2 linked regions of the Homo sapiens genome follow. The protein of the gene in region 1 interacts with the protein of each later gene in a pairwise test. Each region holds a gene or a part of one and is shown on either strand. Other genes may lie near its edges.

The links.
Region 2: the proteins of DESI2 (region 1) and PLIN2 interact in binary tests that used the Homo sapiens proteins (3 or more experiments, as listed by UniProt).

What each region holds. Positions count from the first base shown.
Region 1 is NC_000001.11:244,682,756-244,692,250, reverse strand, and holds part of DESI2 (deubiquitinase DESI2), read right to left. Parts: intron 5,655-9,495; coding exon 5,582-5,654; intron 3,003-5,581; coding exon 2,909-3,002; intron 373-2,908; coding exon 231-372; intron 1-230. UniProt on the Homo sapiens protein: Has deubiquitinating activity towards 'Lys-48'- and 'Lys-63'-linked polyubiquitin chains. Deubiquitinates 'Lys-48'-linked polyubiquitination of RPS7 leading to its stabilization.
Region 2 is NC_000009.12:19,116,192-19,125,686, forward strand, and holds part of PLIN2 (perilipin-2), read right to left. Parts: intron 7,457-9,495; coding exon 7,374-7,456; intron 4,975-7,373; coding exon 4,689-4,974; intron 3,641-4,688; coding exon 3,459-3,640; intron 2,265-3,458; coding exon 2,130-2,264; intron 459-2,129; coding exon 57-458; 3' UTR 1-56. UniProt on the Homo sapiens protein: Structural component of lipid droplets, which is required for the formation and maintenance of lipid storage droplets.

The sequences.
Region 1 (9,495 bases):
TACTCTCTACCCACTGCAAAGTAATGAATAGAATTACCATTTAAAACTGCGGACTCTCAAGTTACCAACTCTGGAAAGGTCATTCATACAAGATTGAAATACAATACCATATTTCATACAACACAAAAAATCGGAAAAGAAGTGAATCAAGATCGAATATAGTGGGATATCAAGTATAGTGGGATAGCAAATATTTATTTGAAGAACTTTTAGGATAAAATTTAGCTTACCTCTGATAAAGCTGAAGAAAAATGATTGCAGTTTTTATGCATTAAATGATAAGCATTGCCTTTGTATTCTTTTCCCAGTTCTTCTACAATTTTTTCTATATCATCTTCTAGGAAGTCCGTGCTCCCTAAAACAACAGCTTCTCTTAAAGAACAAAAAGAAAAAAAAGAGAAAGAAAAATAAGGACATAGTTGTGTCAAATATTTATAAAAAGCATGTTTAAATACTTGCTTATTTCCAGGAATATTATGATCGACATAACAAATCAGGGTTAATATAACAAGACTAAAAGTGAAACAAGATACTTTAAAAGTCCTATTTTAGTTTCTACTTTTCTGCAATAAACTCTTAAGTATATTACCTATGAATACTACAAAAGCACAAGTCATTTTCTTTATGAAATATATGTCCTTATGTAACATGTAATATTACAGTTATTTTCACAACTATTGTATTAGCAGTTATATTATTAGGGAACCAGATCCATGCTGCAAATATTCCTGCGTAATTTCACTTGCCATTTAAGGGCTGGCCATAATGTCACCTAGAAACAAACTTTTAAGTTATCTGTCACTGTGCTGCAATGAGACAAACTGTCAAATCTGACTAAACGTTTTTTAAAAAGAAGGACCCTGGCCGGGTATGGCGGCTCACGCCTGTAATCCCAGCACTTTGGGAGGCCGAGGTGGGCAGATCACCTGAGGTCAGGAGTTCGAGACCAGCCTGGCCAACACGGTGAAACCCCCGTCTCTAAAACAATACAAAAATTAGTCGGGCATGATGGCAGGTGCCTGTAATCCCAGCTACTTGGGAGGCTGAGGCGGAAGAATCGCTTGAACGCAGGAGGCAGAGGTTGCAGTGAGCCGAGATCGTACCACTGTACTCCAGCCAGGGTGACAGAGCAAGACTCCATCTCTAAACAAACAAAAATTAAAAGGACTCCAAACTACTACCTTGGAAAGGCGACAGACATTATCCAAGAGAAAGTGGAATTTTAGTCAGATAAAAGGCATCCAAGGAACCTGAAAATACTTAGAAAATCCTTTTATCAAGTAGTCTTGCCAAAAGAGAGCCCGAAGGAGTGGATTCAGGATGGTATCATAGCACTTACGTGCGAAAATCTTTCAATTCAGTGATAGGCTAAGAGAACTATGAACTTAGTAGAGGGCTTAATGTGTAGCTCTCTACTGAAGTTTAATGTTGGAACCTCATTTCACTGTCTCTTTTTCACTTGGCAAGCCATCTATTATAGGCCCAGAAGTTTAAAGCTCCTTGAAACTCACATTCTAAATATCACTTTTTTTTTTTTTTTTTGGTGAGACGGAGATTTACTCTTGTTGCCCAGGCTGGAGTGCAATGGCGCGACCTCAGCTCACCGCATCCTCTGCCTCCCAGGTTCAAGCAATTCTCCTGCCTCAGCCTCCCGAGTAGCTGGGATTACAGGCATGTACCACCATGCCTGGCTAATTTTATATTTTTAGTAGAGACGGGGTTTCACCGTGTTGCCCAGGCTGATCTCGAACTCCTGACCTCAGGTGATCCGCCTGCCTTGGCCTCCCAAAGTGCTGGGATTACAGGCATGAGCCACTGCACCCGGCCCTAAATATCACTTTAAATACAAACCTCAATTAAGGAATGAAAATTTTATTATTAACATTTATATTCTCATTCTCAGCAAACTATCACAAGGACAGAAAACCAAACACCGTATGTTCTCACTCATAGGTGGGAACTGAACGATGAGAACACTTGGACACAGGGCGGGGAACATCACACACCAGGGCCTGTCGCGGGGTGGGAGCCTGGGGGAGGGATAGCATTAGGAGAAATACCTAATGTAAATGATGAGATCATGGGTGCTGCAAACCAACATGACACATGGATACCTATGTAACAAACCTGCACGTTGTGCACATGTACCCTAGAACTTAAAGTATAAATAAAAAAAATTATATTCTCACTGCTTTTTATTACTCGTAAGACTCCAGTGAACACTTACATCCATATATTTTAGGTTTATCATTACATGTAATACATGTACCTTAACAATGGATTCTACGCTAATCAACTGTTTAATTATTTCAAACGTGTAAAGTGTCCCTTTCATTGGGACAATAAAGACATTTTTAATTTGCTAGGTAGGTCACAATAAAACTTTTTCTCCTTTCAAACAGGAGATTGAGGGGAAGAAATCATTAGAAAGGAGTTTCCTGGGCTGGGCGTGGTGGCTCACGCCTGTAATCCCAGCACTTTGGGAGGCCGAGGCAGGTGGATCACCTGAGGTCAGGAGTTCAAGACTAGCCTGGCCAACATGGCGAAACTCCATCTCTACTAAAAATACAAAAATTAGCCGGACGTCGTGGTGCACGCCTGTAATCCCAGCTACTTGGGAGCCTGAGGCAGGAGAATCGCTTGAACCTAGAAGGCGGACGCTGCAGTGAGCTGAGATCACGCCACTTCTCTCCAGCCTGGGAGACAGAGTGAGACTCCATCTCAAAAAAAAAAGGAAAAGAAATGAGTTTCCTGAGGCAAACTTGAGTTATATAAAATGTCAGCAATTAAAACAAAGAGACATTTTTAACTTCTTGGGTTTGTTTTGATTTACAGAATGAATTCTGTATACCTGAAAACAAGCTATGGCACCTAAGACAGTGTAATAAAAATTATCCTCCCTACTTACTTAAATTTAAATGTTTCTCCTAGTTCAGAAGCATTTCCTGGGGAAATTTCAAATATTCCAGAAAAGGGGTAAGGATGGCCACCATAAGCAAATTCTGAAAAGAGAAAACTCATGATTTTTAGTATGTATCACATAAAATTTAACCAGAATGCTGAATTAGCTTTAATAATTGAGGATAACAGTGACACCATCTAAATATTTTTCAGTTTATAAAATGCTTTCACAAATATCTCACTTAGCTATTACTCGTATAAACAGTTGTCACAAAAGACCCGAAACTCAAATAACAGAAGACACTCAAAGATATTCTTGCCTGCCATATTTCCCTTTCTTATCATGGCAGGAAGAGAGTGATCAACACACAGAGGTATATACAGTTCTCTCTGCCTGTCTATATCATGCCAGTCTAGGCAGGTGGTCAGTTCAGTGTTTTGCCACTTTCTAAGTTAAAGTGATCCAATTTCAAACACATATCTTACTGGAGAAACTGTCTAGTAACAGTGAGTTTCATGGTTTCTGGGATAAAGACTATTGGTTTATCTTTGAGTAGGGTGGAACATTACCAAACCTAAAACACTACTCAATTCTCTTCATGTAAGAAAAAAATAAACTGCCAAATTAACACACATACCCATCCACCCTCCCATCCAATCACCACAGCAAGTCTTTTAGCTAGGATAAACTATTTTTTGACTGTACATCCAATACAAAATGTACATCAGATACAAACTCTGGAGAACAAAATGGAGAATAATTTTAGATAAAAAATTCCTGTAATTTTCTGTTATTTCACTTAGATATTTCAGTGGCTAAGTCTTAGTAGACAAATTTAAAGAATTCCAAACCATGCTTAAATCAACTTCATCACTTTAAAAATATACCTTAAAAGGTCTTAGAACAAAGCACAGGAAAGAACAGGCAGATACTAAATTTACTTTTAATTCAGACCTGTTCAAAAAAAGCAATGATGTAGTTTGAGAAATAAAGTGGCTATTTTGAAACATAATTTTTAAAGTTTTTTAGTGACAAAATTTTACAAAATATTGTAGATTATCAGGTTGGAAGGGATAAGATTATATTTGGATTCTTAACTTTCTCAATTATAGTACGGAAAGTCACAGACCCATTCTTTTATTTAAAAAGCAATCACTAATTTTCAGGAATATATTAATATTTGATTCTAGCTTTACTAAATTTACATGAACATGTTTTGAAACATGTTTCTAATTATTACTAAATAATTTTATGAAGGGGAGCAATGATTAGGGAGATAATAGAGCCACGGACTAGCATACAAGAACATTTGGGTTCAAGTTTGAGTTAATTATTAGCATGATGACTTCCAGCAGGTTTGGGCCTCAGTTTCTTCAGCTGAAAAATGGAGAAGATGGCACCTGCCCTTACCTAACCCACCATGATCATGTGGTTCAAAACTTGATGGCATTTTAAGAACAGTAACACATCACACAAATTCAAGAAATACACATGCAAATTTGGCAAAAGCCAAATCAGCCAAAAGAGTAACCCCACAGACTATGATCCCACCCACAGCAATACTCCCAAGCATGAAACTTCCAGCAAGAGCCCCTCAGTATTTCCTGGGATTATTTGGTAGATGCAGACTTTCAAGTAAAATAGAGCTTAAATGGCAGATTTTTATAGCCAACATTTAATATGCTAAACTTCACCTGGAAGCAGGTAAAATGGAATATAAAAAAGAGTATAACCACCATACTGACACATTTAAGTAAATGAGTCTTTTCTTTGTATTGGTTAAAACTGGTGTATAGTGTTCAGGGGTAACCCTCAGTAAACTGCAATAATATATTCTTAAGAGGTCACAAAGACTGCCTAGCTGAAGCGAACAAAGGCATTTCTGCTATAGGGTTAGTTTATAATTCAAAATGATACATTGAATGAAATCAGCAATGTGATCTGTCTTACGCAGACCATTACTATTAGTTACAACTTGATCAGGGGTAGATTATCTTGCATCAAGAGTAGGAATTAGCACAGTGGAAAAAAACTGTTGAAAACACAGCTGCTTGGTTTGAGTGACTCCTGACATGTTTATCCTAATAAAGGGTTTTAATAAGGAGAATGAAAAGGGCTGAGTTAATGACAAAGGGCATGATTAGATGTAATCATGGCAGGATTTGCTCAGCAATGTTTTTAGACTTCAAAAACTTATAGATTTTATAAGACGTATAGGTCTACAAACCAAATTTATTACTGAAATTCCCTCAGGAAATTGGTATTTCAAGTCTGACACTTTCTAGCACCAACCTTTCCGACCAAAATTATTGTTTTTATCATGCTATTTTCGAAATGCAAGGTTTCTTAGGAGCTCCAATATATATGAGAACAAAACAAACTGTCATTTTATGACAATCACAAAAGGAAAATATTTTTTAAAACATAGTATTTAGAATAAAAGATAAAGTGAATGAAGCAAATGTATATTCTTGTATTTTGAGTACTTTCTCCCCAAATACATTCTACTTTGGGCATTTTTCCAAAACGCAGTATAAATGAATATGGGGAGATTTTCTTCTACTTTCTGTAATAACATATGCAAGTGGTTAAAAAAAGAGAGACCTATAGTTATGATTTTGCAACTCTTTTAAAGTACAAAATCTTCAGAGAGTATATTTAGACTGTGTGTACACGTACCTCTGCCATAGACTTCAATTCCTGAATGAAAAACTCCAATTCCAATGGATGAGGTATATTCGTTCATCCAATACTGAGAAAAAAAGAAAGAAAAGATTCAGAATACCTGTTCATTTACAACCCAACTCCGCGCTACAGAAGTGACTGCTCCCCAGTCTTTCACTCTGAAACTCCCATGATAACGATCCAGTGGTCCTGTCTCTGTGGCTCTGTGCCTTTGCCTGTACCACATCTGGAATGCCTTCCTGGGTCAAAATAATTGTCGCGATTTGAGTATAAGCACATTATCTAAGGCTTCTAGGGGAAGCAATACAATTAAAAGCTTGATCAGTTTGTGGGGCGGTGGGGGGAGAGATTATATAAGAGCTCTGCTGTTAGTGACTTACACACACACACACACACATACACACACACACACAGAGTGTGCTTTCATATCTATTTTTCTCCTATCCTAAGCTTTTCTTCTTATTCTTTGGTGAGCTCCCTGAAAGCAGAAATATTTTATTCTTTTTCAACAAACATTTACGGCATGTATCATGTGTCCTGATTCAGCTCAAAGTTTGATAATGGTAATAATATAAGAATAAACAATGCACAAAGGTTAGAACAACATTCTTACTTCTTACCATTAGCATGAATAAAAACCTCCCAGAAAAGTAATATCTGAACTGAGTCTTTAGGAACAAATCAGATTTCCCAGTAAGAAAACTGGGCCATGGGGCCCATGGGGATGGACAGAAATGCCAGGAAGAGGGAAGAGGATGTACATAGGTTATATGATAAGAAATTACAGGAAATGACTGTGAAAGGGGTTAAAAAGGTGAAGTGGAGGGGGTTAAACTGAGAAAAAGGTAAATGAGTTAAGAGCTCACTAAACAAAACACTTAGGTAACACTCAAAAGTGTTACAAACCTATTGGATGTCTCCCAGGTTAGGGGACAGATAATTTATCTTTAATTGTTCTAGGTTTATTCAAGTCTTAACCTTGGCTCCAGACCCCTAGCCAGTCTTTCTCAGACCTACACACATTCTCACGCATTGCTGGAAGAAGCATAAATGAACAAGTCAGTTGTGTTTTTTTCTAAAATGTACCTGGGGCCGAGCGTGGATAAAAATAAAATAAAACGTACCTGGAAGAAGAATTAAGCAATCATAAATAAATATATGAAAACAAGGAATTTTCCCATCTAGAAATTGAAATATTCATTAAAACAATATGGCATTGTTGCAGGAACAGATCCTGGTACAGACCCTTGTATATATAAGAATTTGATATATGATAAAGGAGATATTTAAAATTAATGACAAAGTATGACTTACTAAAAGCATGTTGACAAAATTGATTATGCATAAATTTCATGTATAAAAATTCTAGTGTGTCTAAAAATAACTATATATGGATAGAAGGGAATAGAGTTTTAAAAATTTTAGGTGGGAAAAGACAACCTAAGTAAAGTAAAATCCTAGAATTTACAGAGGAAAATATCAACAGATATTCTACATAAAAATGTACAACTTTTTATTTTATAAAACTACATAAAAACAAGATAAAAAGATAAATAATATGCAAAAAGAGAGAATCTGTGTGGATATAACAAAGATTCATATGAGAATATAAGTATCCCTCTTGATCGGAATTTTTTGAGTTCCTGATTTTGGAGAGCCAGAATTTGGATGGCAAGTTAGGAAACGAAGGCTACATTTTTTTATGTGAATCAATTTGATTTTGGAAGGAGAGTAGTAAGATTACATACAGTAAGGATTCTTCAAAACATTTACCCAAATCTATTTAATCCCAGAGTTTGGGCAGCAAAAGTTCAGATATGAGTATACTTGTGAAAATCAATGAAAGTGACTTAACCATTTCACCTTCTGGAATCTATTCTATAGAAATACTAGTACATATGCAAAGCCATGTCCCAGGATATTAACTGTAGTTGTCTACAAGTACTGAAAAACTGAAGTCTAAATATCAATAGAGAAATGGCTAATTATGGTACATTCATATTATAAACTATCAATCAAAAAAAGAATAAGGTTGACTTGGGAAAATTAGCTGAGATTTTTTTTTTAAAAAAGAAAAAAGAATGAGGTAACTCGATAGATATTTAAAAACCACATAAAATAAAAAGATCAAGTCATAATATGTGTAGCATGATCACATTTTTGAAAAATAAGTTAGCCTGAGGATATACTTACATGTTAAGTATGGGATGACAAAATCAAACTACCACCAATTGCAACAAAAGAAAGGTCTGAAGCACCTGTGTTCAACTGTTAACAATTTGGCCGAGAGGAGTACACGTGGCTAGGGTGGGAGTGGAGGACTAAAATGCAATACTTTCAGTTTTAGCTCCATACATTCAGGATTGTTTGTTCTTCTAAATTTGATAAAGAGTATTACTTTTATAGTTAAAAATGTTATTTTAAAGTAAAATGCTATTATCTTAGTTTAACAGGTTTTTATTTATTTGAATCTTTATACTATAGTAAAAGAATAGGTTGCACATATAAAAAACCATAAGCATAAGACTATTAACTGCAGTATTATTTATGTTAGTAAAATGTTGACAACAGCCTAAATGTTCATTTATAGGGTCCTAGTTACATAAACTATGATATATCTATATAATGGAATACTCTTTAGCCATAAAAAGAGGGGAAGGGCTCAGTGTGGTGGCTCACACCTGTAATTCCAGTACTTTGGGAGGTTGAGGCGGGAGGACAGCTTGAGGCCAGGAGTTCAAGACCCCCCTAGGCAACACAGGGAGACCCAATCTCTTAAAAAAAAAAAAAAATTAGCCAGGTACCCGTGGTCCTAGCTACTTGGGAGGCTGAGGTGGGAGAACTGAGCCCGGGAGTTTGAGGTTGCAGTGAGCTATGATCACACCACTGCACTCCAGCCAGGGCAACAAAGTGAGACCCTGTCTCTAAAAAAAAATTCAAAAAGTGTTGGGGCAGGTGTGATGCTCTTAAGGAACTAAGAGGAAGAGGAAGTAATTTCCAGGATATATTTGTTAGGGAAACAAAAGCAAGTTGCAAAGTAATATATGGCAAAAGGCTGGGCGCGGTGGCTCACGCCTGTAATCCCAGCACTTTGGGAGGCTGAGGTGGGCGGATCACAAGGTCAGGAGATCAAGACCACCCTGGCTAACATGGTGAAACCCTGTCTCTACTGAAAATACAAAAAATTAGCCGGGTGTGATGGCGGGCACTTGTAGTCCCAGCTACTCAGGAGGCTGAGGCAGGAGAATGGCATGAACCTGGGAGGCGGAGCTTGCAGTGAGCCGAGATCACGCCACTGCACTCCAGCCTGGGCGACAGAGCGAGACTCTGTCTCAAAAAAAGAAAAAAGTAATAATATATGGCAAAGACTTAGACTCCTGAACCTTCTCCTAGGCCCATGTGTACACGTACTTGTAAAATCAGGTTTTAGCAAAGAATCTTGCTAATTCAGTTCAGCAAGAACCCCCAACCCTTGCTATCTGATCACCTCCATATCTGGTCAGGTTCCTCATCCTCCACCATCCCCCTGGTGATGCCAGATCTTCACTAGGAAATGTGTTAGGTTGGTTTAGCCAGAACCCCCCTGGATCCCTAATGTTTCCTCTTAGAAATTTTCCATCCACTGACCCTCCACCCTGCTCCCTGGCTGCAAATTCCCATTTGCCCATGCTGTGTTTGGAGTTGAACACAGTTTCTCTACTCCACTGCAAAATCCCATTGCCATGGCCCCTCTACCTATCACAATGGTCTTGAAAAGAGTTTGCCTTACTGTGCTTTAACAAATATCACTGAGTTTTTTTTTTTTTTTTGACAACACACTATATACATGCTTTTGTATGAGAATGTCTGTATCTACATCTTACAGCCAGCAAACAACTCCTGCAGACCAATCTGGCCCCCCGCCTGTC
Region 2 (9,495 bases), on another chromosome or scaffold:
CATAACAAAAGGTGTCATCTGTCTGGCCACAGCATGCACTAGTGATAGGGGCAGGTTTAATGAGTTTTATGCTCAGATCGCTGGGTCTCCTGGCTGCTCTTGTCCATCTCTGCACCTTGGTCCTGAGCATTCTGAGACTCAGTCAGCTGAGGATAAAAGGGACCTACCAGCCAGTTGAGGGGCGTGTTGTTAACAAGATAATCCATCACGTCATCTAAAGATTCCTTCATTTTCTGCAGCTGCCCCTTGCTAGAAGTGAGGAGGCTGTCAGACACTTCTTTAAAGGAGGCAGCATTGCGGAACACTGAGTAGATGTCGCCTGCCATCACCCCCATGTGCTTGGCTTGATCTTGGATGTTCTGTGGTACACCTTGGATGTTGGACAGGAGGGTGTGGCACGTGGTCTGGAGCTGCTGAGTCAGGTTGCGGGCAATTGCAAGAGTACGTGACTCAATGTGCTAAAAATAAAACTTAAAATTAGCAGTGGATCCAACAGTGCTATGTATAAATTAGTTCGATGACAGTAGGCTGGTTATGTGTCCACCACATATGTGGATTCTTTGGCTTTTAAAAATCCTCATTACAATGCCGAGTGCAGCAGTATTATTCACATTTCATAGATATGAATATAAGCTTAGAGTTTAAGTAGATGGCTTCAGTTAACAACTGGAAAACAGCTGGGTAGGGATTCGAACTAGTGCCTGAGTCTCCAAAGTTCATCATCTTAAACTGAAGAAACATATTAGGTAGGGGAGACCCAAAAGAATGGAAATATCCTTCATGTTAGTAGTGTAATGTATATATTCCCTCCTCAAATAAAATGACAAGACATGAACAAACAGTTCATATTGACTTCAGAGCTTTTGGGACACAAAGAACCACTTTCTAGGACTATAAGAGGATATTTCTTTTCCCTTCCTTCCTCCCTGCTTCCCTTCCTTTTTCTTTCTTTCTTCTTTCTTTCTTTTCTTTTCTTTCTTTCTTTCTGAGACAGGGTCTCAGTCTGTTGCCCAGGCTGGAGGGCACTGGCACAATCATGGCTCACTGCGGACCCGACCTCTCGGGCTTAGGTGATCCTCCCACCTCAGCCTCTCGAGCAACTAGGACTACAGGTGCACACCACCACACCCTGCTAATTTTTGTATTTTTTGTAGAGATGGGGTTTCACAGTTGCCCAGGCTGGTCCTGAATTCCTGGGCTCAAGTGATCTGCCTGCCTTGGCCTCCCAAAATGCTGAGATTACAGGTGTGAGCCATTGCACCCAGCCAAGATGCTATGCCTTCCCTCTGGAACCTTGGTCACCTTATTGCCCTTTCACCTAGTTTATTCACCCATTAGTTCTCAGCTTACCATTCATCTCTTCCAGAAAGCAATGTGACTCAACTACCCCCACTCCAAGGCTGCCTGAGATAGTCTTCCCATATGTTTTCTTTTTTTTTTTTTTGAGACAGAGTCTTACTCTGTTGCCCAGGCTGGAGTGCAGTAGCATGATCTCGGCTCATGGCAACCTCTGCCTCCCAGGTTCAAGCTATTCTCCTGCCTCAGCTGCCCGAGTAGCTGGGACTACAGGCACGTGCCACCATGCCTGGCTCATTTTTTGTATTTTTAGTAGAGACAGGGTTTCACCATGTTGGCCAGGATGGTCTCGATCTCCTGACCTCGTGATCTACCCGCCTCGGCCTCCCAAAGTGTTGGGATTACAGGCGTGAGCCATCGCGCCCAGCCAATAGTACCTGTATTTATGCCGTTAAACAACAACCGGACTTGGCTACTCTGAGTGTACTGCCTATGAGATAGCCCTCTTCTGCAAGGAGCATTAAAAAGGCACAAAATAGGACAGCATGGCTGGCTGTATCCCCTGTTAGTCTGTACCCATTATGAGGGCAAGGCCTGTGTTTCTCATTTAGTTGTATCTCACTTGGGGCATATGTATACTCATAGGTTGTTAGATAAAATTATTCGCTGCCTAGTTTTGCTTTTCTGCCACATAACTAGCCACCTATGTACATGGTATTGTTCAACCTTTTGATAGAGAAGAGTATTCTAAGACATAGTATGGAAAAATTGAAATGAAAAGTCTGATAAGAACTTCTTCAGCAACCAACAAATGACCGTCCCAGTCATCTTACCTCAGCACAGTGGGACTCATCAGTATCATCATATCCAATGCTCCTTTTCCACTCTACCCATGAGAGGTAGAGCTTATCCTGAGCATCCTGAATTTTCTGATTGGCACTATACACATTCTTCCTGGCAAATTCAATCTAGACACATTGAAACAAGACAAAGGAACACACAAGTCAGATATTCACGTTAGCCTGTTTGCAGATGTATGATGTAAATCAGGCAACATAAAAACTAAGAATTTCCTGGAGTTGAATAAGATCTATTCCTGCTATCATTATTATTTATTATCAATATGTGTAAATTAACCAAGCAGTAGTAGCTCTTTACTGCCTCTATTTAACTATTAAATCACTGACTCCACATTTACTTCCAGTTTAGCACAGGTAAAGCAACTAAAAAACTACAAAAAATTTTTTTTGAGTGTCACTCTGTCACCCAGGCTGAAGTACAGTGGCGCGATCACAGCTCACTGAACCTCCTTCTCGTGCCTTAGCCTACCGAGTAGCTGGGATTACAGGCATACGCCACCATGCCCAGCTAATTTTTGTATTTTTAGTAGAGACAGGATTTCACCTTGTTGGCCAGACTGGTCTCGAACTCCTGACCTCAGGTGATCCAACCACCTTGCCCTCCTAAAGTGCTGGGATTATAGGCATGAGCCACCACGCCCAGCCAGCAACTAAAATTTAATGTGTACATGAGTAAAGGATAAGTTAGCATTACAAAACAGAAAGGAATTTGACCTTCCTCTTCCCTGTTGCCAACCACTATTTCCCCTTCTAAGAAGAAATGGTTTTCTCATGGCAGTACAGAATGGTACATACTGTTCTTTAACTTGGAAACCTTTAATGGCTACACAGTAGTCTATTGTGATATATCAATTTAATTAGTCCTGTTAGTGGATGTGCATTGTTATAGTCTCTTGCAACTTTAAACAAATATACACATCTGTAAGATAAAAAGTAAAACAGCTCCAAGTGTAGGTATGCTTGTAACTTTACTAAAACTGTCTCTTGAATCAGTCCCTTAGAGCAAGAGCTGCACAAGTGTGGTTCTTTCTCTACACCGTTGCCAACAGCCACATTTCCCGTGTGGCAGGACAAGAGAGATGTCAGTATTTGACCCCTCAGAGCGAGATTAGCATTGCTTCCTATATTTCAACTAGTTATACTTCCTTTTTCTGTGAGCTGTCTCCATATTCTTTGTCCAGTTTTCTATTGGGTTGTTTGTCAACTAAGAATGAAATTCTTGGATTTTGTGATTACATTTAATTCTTGGGCCTAGAGATAAATGAACCCACTTCAGACACCTTAAAATAAAGTTTTACTCACCAGGTGAACAGTAGAATGGAGCTGAGAAATGGTCTGTTGGCTTTTTTGCTTAGCTTCTTTAACCCTGCTGAGAGCCTGCTGGTAGGCACGGGAGTGAAGCTTGGTAGACAGGGATCCCAGTCTAACATAATAACTTGGCTTCTGAACCAGATCAAATCCTTCAACTTTTTTTGCTTCTTTTTCTGAAGTTAGAAATAAGAGACAAAAAAACTTAAGGGATCACAGTGACAAGTGATAAGGCCTGGACTCTAACCTGGGTCTTGACTTTCTTACTTCTACCCAATCACTTAGCAATCATGCAGTCATTTTTCCAAGACTGCTCACGTCTGCTGCTGGACTTGACTACCCTGAACATATTACTGTATCTGATACACACTGCATGCATCTACACGTTTCTCCCACTAGAGTAAACTGCTTTTTTTTTTTTGGAAACAGGTCTTGCTTTGTTGCCCAGGCTGGAGTACAGTGGCACAATTTTGGCTCACTGCAGCCTCAACCTCCCGAGCTCAACTGATCCTCTCACCTCAGCCTCCCGAGTAGCTAGGACTCTAGGAACAAGCCACCATGCCCAGCTAATTTTTGTGTTTTTTAGGGTTTCGCCATGTTGCCCAGGCTAATCTCAAACTCCTGAACTCAAGCGATCTGCCTGTCTTAGCCTCCCAAAGTGCTGGGATTGTAGGCATGCATGCACCATTGCTCCCAGCCTAGAGTGAACTTGAGCGGCATGGTACCTGGCACACATTACCTAATGATGATTCTTTGTAAGGAGGATTTTATAAAGCAATCCATTAAAGACTATCCATTTACAGAAAATATTTTTCAAGGCCAATTTTTGCTAAGGTTTCAAAACTTACTACGTACGATTCAATGTGAACTTTATGATTGCTTTAGGAAGGAAAATCTATAGAGGCAAAAAGATTAGTGGTTGCTCACATCTGTAATCCCAGAACTTTGGGAGGTCAAGGCAGGTGGATCGTTTGAGCCCAGGAGTTCGAGATCAGCCTGGGCAACATAGTGAGATCCCATCTCTATAAAATTAAATTAAATTAAAAAGGACTGACTGCAAACAGGCATGAGGATCTTTTGGGGTAGCAGAAGTGTTCTGAAACTGGATTGCAGTGATGCTTGCACAACTGTGTAAATTTAGACTCAAGATGAGAGTATATGTCAATGAAGCTGTTTAAGAAAGATTTAATATAAAACAGTATTTCAAGATAAAATTCCAGTTACCTAGTTCTTCCTCAGTGAGAGGGAGGTACTGTTCTACCAACAGCTCTGATTTGGTGAGTGCATTTTCTACGCCACTGCTCACGAGCTGCATCATCCGACTCCCCAAGACTGTGTTAATGCTGCCACTGACCACAGACTTGGTCTTCTCCACACTGCCAGTCACTGCCCCTTTGGTCTTGTCCATCACCCCTGTGATCGTGCTGGCCACAGAATCCTTGGCCCCAGTCACAGTAGTCGTCACAGCATCTTTTGCCCCAGTCACAGCGCCTTTGGCATTGGCAACAATCTGTAAGTAGAAAAGCAGATCCCCTGGCTGGTGAGAAAAATGAGCACAAGGACATACCTAAGGTCTTAACTAAGGCAGCACAGCTGAAGAGTTAAAGAAGGAATCTAGTCCTCTCACTCTAGCTTTAGGTCTTGGGCAAGTCACTAAGAGTTGATGAGCCTGAATTTCCCTATCAAGTATATCTGCCCTACCTGCCAATCCTTGGGAATTGCAGGAGGAGCAAATGAAGTAAACAGATATGAAATTTGTCTGTTTGCCAAGGCTGCAGTGAGCTGTGATTGTGCCACTGCACTCAGCCTGGGTGACAGAGCAAGACCCTGTCTCAAAAAAAAAAAAAAAAAAAGAGAAGAGAAAAGAAAAAAAAAGAAAAGAAAAGAAGGTAAGTTATATAGCTTATTCCAAAGTCACACAAATCCAGAGAGGAAACTGAAGATCAAACTATACCTGGCCCTCGGGGTGTTATTAGTATGCAGTTATTATACATGGCAGGGCATGGTGGCTCATGCCTGTAATGCCAGCACTTTGCAAAGCTGAGTTGGTTGGATCACCTGAGGTTAGGAGTTCGAGACCAGCCTCACCAACATGGTGAAACCCCGTCTCTACTAAATACAAAAAATTAGTTGGGCGTGGTGGCACATGCCTGTAACCCCAGCTACTTGGGAGACTGAGGCAGAAGAATCACTTGAACCCCAGAGGTGGAGGTTGCAGTGAGCCAAAATTGCACCATTACACTACAGCCTGGGCAACAAGAGCAAAACTCTGTCTCAAAAACAAACAAACAATGACAAAAAAAATTAGCTGGGTGTGGCGGGGCGTGCCTGTGAACCCAGCTACTGGGGAGGCTGAAGCAGGACAATTGCTTGAACCCAGGAGGAAGAGACAGCAGTGAGCCGAGATTGTGCCACTGCACTCCAGCCTGGGTGACAGAGCAAGACTCTGTCTCAAAAAAAAAAAAAAAAAAAAAAAAAAGAACACAAGTTACCAACATTTAAAGAAAATATCCGAAATGGAAAATAACTCTCACCATTAGCACAGTCTCAAGCAATGTAAGTGAAAAATTTAAAAGATTTGCACAAGCATTCTAAAGGCTATACACTAAACCTACCTATAGTTGTGTACCACATAATATTTTGGTCAGCGATGGACCACTATTCAATGATAGTCCCATAAGATTATAATGAACTGCCCTATAACAGGTATACTTTTTTTTTTCACTGTACCTTTTCTAGTTTAGATACACGAATACTTATCATTGTGTTACAGTAGTCAGTGTAGTCATGCTGTGCAGGTTTGTAGCCTAGAAGCAAGCAACAGGCTATATACCATATAGCCTAGGTATATAGCAGGCTATACACCATATAGCCTAGGTATATAGCAGGCTATACACCATATAGCCTAGGTATATAGCAGGCTATACACCATATAGCCTAGGTATATAGCAGGCTATACACCATATAGCCTAGGTATATAGCAGGCTACACCACAAGTCCCTAACCCCCGGGCCATGGACCATTACCAGTCCATTACCAGTCCATTACCAGTCAGAGGCGGCATTAGATTCTCATAGGAGACCTAACCCTAACCCTCTTGTGAACTGTGCACGTGCATGCTCCTTATGAGAATCTAATGATAAATATAGTGCACTTGAATCATCCCAAAAACACCACCCACCCCCTGCTGGTCCATGGAAAAACTGTCTTCCATGGAACCAGTTCCTGGTGCCATAAAGCTTGGGGACCACTGGGCTCTACCATCTAGGTTGGTGTGAGTATACTCTGTGATGTTCACACAATGGCAAAATCACCTAATGTGCATTTCTCAAAATATATTCCCATCACTAAGTGACAGATGACTGTATTTAGATTATGAAAAGACACAGAGCTATATTTTTCCCTAACTGGTATCCTTTTGTGCCATTCTGTATTCTTAATTTGAAACAAAATTTTAGGACATTATCTGAACCAAAGGATCACCAGGACAGACAAGCCTATCATTTTTGTCAACACTGGCTAGCTATCCCATATGGATGGTAGTTCCTGGCAGCATTGTACAAGCCAGGTGAGAAAAGGTTATATATATCACGTCTGCATTTATTTAATACCACAAGACAATCAGTTACTTGAGACAGCAATTTCATTTATAGGAGCAAAGACACAAACTGATAGACAACACACTAAAAGTTTTCTAATCCAAAGGAGGCTAGTTCTTCTCTGCTTCGTAGATACAACTTGACAACAGTTCAGGAAGTAAGGAAGTGGCCATTATTTTTCAAACATACATCCAGATCCAGGTTGGGAAAACAAGTATTTGCCTGTTTGTGATATGTACAGCTTGTTTTAACAGATAGAAGATGAAAACATGTGAAGTGTCAAGTCTCAGCACTTTTGTCCCAAGCTCACCTGAGTTGATGGCTGATTCAGAATAGGCAGTCTCTCCTCAATCCTGTCTAGCCCCTTACAGGCATAGGTATTGGCAACTGCAACTAGAATCACAAATGGGAAAATGTTAATGTAGTACTATAGGTATAGAATGAACACACATTACCATAGGCCTTATAAAAAATGGCAATAATGGGCTGGGCACGGTGGCTCACGCCTGTAATCCCAGCACTTTGGGAGGCTGAGGCAGGCGGATCACGAGGTCAAGAGATCGAGACCATCCTGGCCAACATGGTGAAACCCCGTCTCTACTAAAAATACAAAAATTAGCTGGGCGTGATGGTGTGCGCCTGTAGTCCCAGCTACTCAGGAGGCTGAGGCAGGAGAATCGCTTGAACTCAGGAAGCAGGGGTTCCAGTGAGCCAAGATGCATCATTGCACTCCAGCCTGGGTGACAGAGCAAGACTCCATCTCAAAAAAAAAAAAAAAGGCAAGAATGTTGATCTTATACAACAGAAGGCATTGCCTGGTTTATCTAGTTCTGACAGGAAGAGGCCTGGCAAGTTGCTGGCAACTCTCTTCTAAAGGTAAGGAAATATGGGGGTGTGAGGGAGGAGCAGGCAGAGGCAGTGACAGGCCAAACAGGAAGCTGGCTCTGAAGCTTCTTCCTTATCAACTGGCCCCTAATGTTAATGCCAAGAGTAGCCGGGCTTTCCCTGAACTGTCATTCAGAGAATAAGGTATCTGGAAACTCTCTCAAAATCGGCATTCCCATGCTAGTTTAATCCCTACCTACGCTTACTTCAGCACAGGTCAGTGTATTTGGGGTCCTCAGGAGGAAAGAGTATGCCAAGACCACCCTGGATCTCCCTAACAAGGGAGATTTTAGTGTGAGCTTCCCACTAAGAATACCAAACCAAGTACTAGTACCAAATTCATTTAGGAAGTAGCAGAGTTGGAATGGCTGGTCTCTAAAGGCTCCTTATAATCCTAAAAGTCCCTGGCTTAACCATTTGAAAGAATGATTTAAATCTTTATTCAAAAGCAGTTCATGTTGTGGAGAAATTGGAGCCTCCATACAGTGTTGGTGGGAATGTAAAATGGTACAGCTGATTTGGAAAACAGTCTGGCAGCTCCTCAAAAGCTTAAACAGTTATTATATAACCCAGCAATTCCACTCCTGGGTATATACCAAAAAAACCTGAAAACATGTCCACACAAAAACTTGTATACAAATGTTCACAGAAGCATTATACATAATCTCCAAAAGTAGAACGAACCCAAACATCCATCAGTTGAAGAATGAATAAATATTGTCTGTCTAGACAGTAAATTACTATTCAACAATAAAAAGAGATGAAGTACTGATATGATGTGACAAGACAGATTAACTTTGAAAACATTATGCTTAACGAAAGAAGCCAATCACAAAAAAACCCACACATTTTATGATTTCATTTATAAGAAATATCCAGCATAGGCAAATCTATAAAGACAAAGTAGATGAGTAGCTGCCTCAGGGTGGTTGTTAGGAAATGGGGAGTGACTACTAAGTATGAGAGTATGAGATTTCTCATGGAGTATGACATTTCTATTCTTTATTTCGGTAAAATATACATAACAAATTTCACCATTTCAACCATTTTTAACTGTGCAATTCAGTGGCATTAAGTCCATTTACAACATTATACAACCATCACCACTATCCATTTCTAAAACTCATTCATGGCCAGGCATGGTGGCTCACACCTGTAGTCCTAGCACTTTGGGAGGCCGAGGCGGGCGGATCACCTGGGGTCAGGAGTTCCTGACCAGCCTGGCCAACATGGCAAAACCCTGTCTCTACTAAAAATACAAAATTAGCTGGGCATGGTGGTGTATGCCTGTAATCCCAACTACTCAGGGAGCTGAGGCAGGACAATCACCTGAGCCCGAGAGGCAGAGACTGCAGTGAGCAGTCTCAAATTCCAGGCCTCAAGCGATCCTCCCATCTAGACCTCCCAAAGTGCTAGGATTACAGGTGCAGGCCACCGTGCCCATCCTCTGGGGGATTTTTAATTAAAGGATCATAAACATCTGCCAAAGCTATGAAACAGGCCTTCTGTGGACAGGCGCGGTGGCTCACGCCTGTAATCCCAGCACT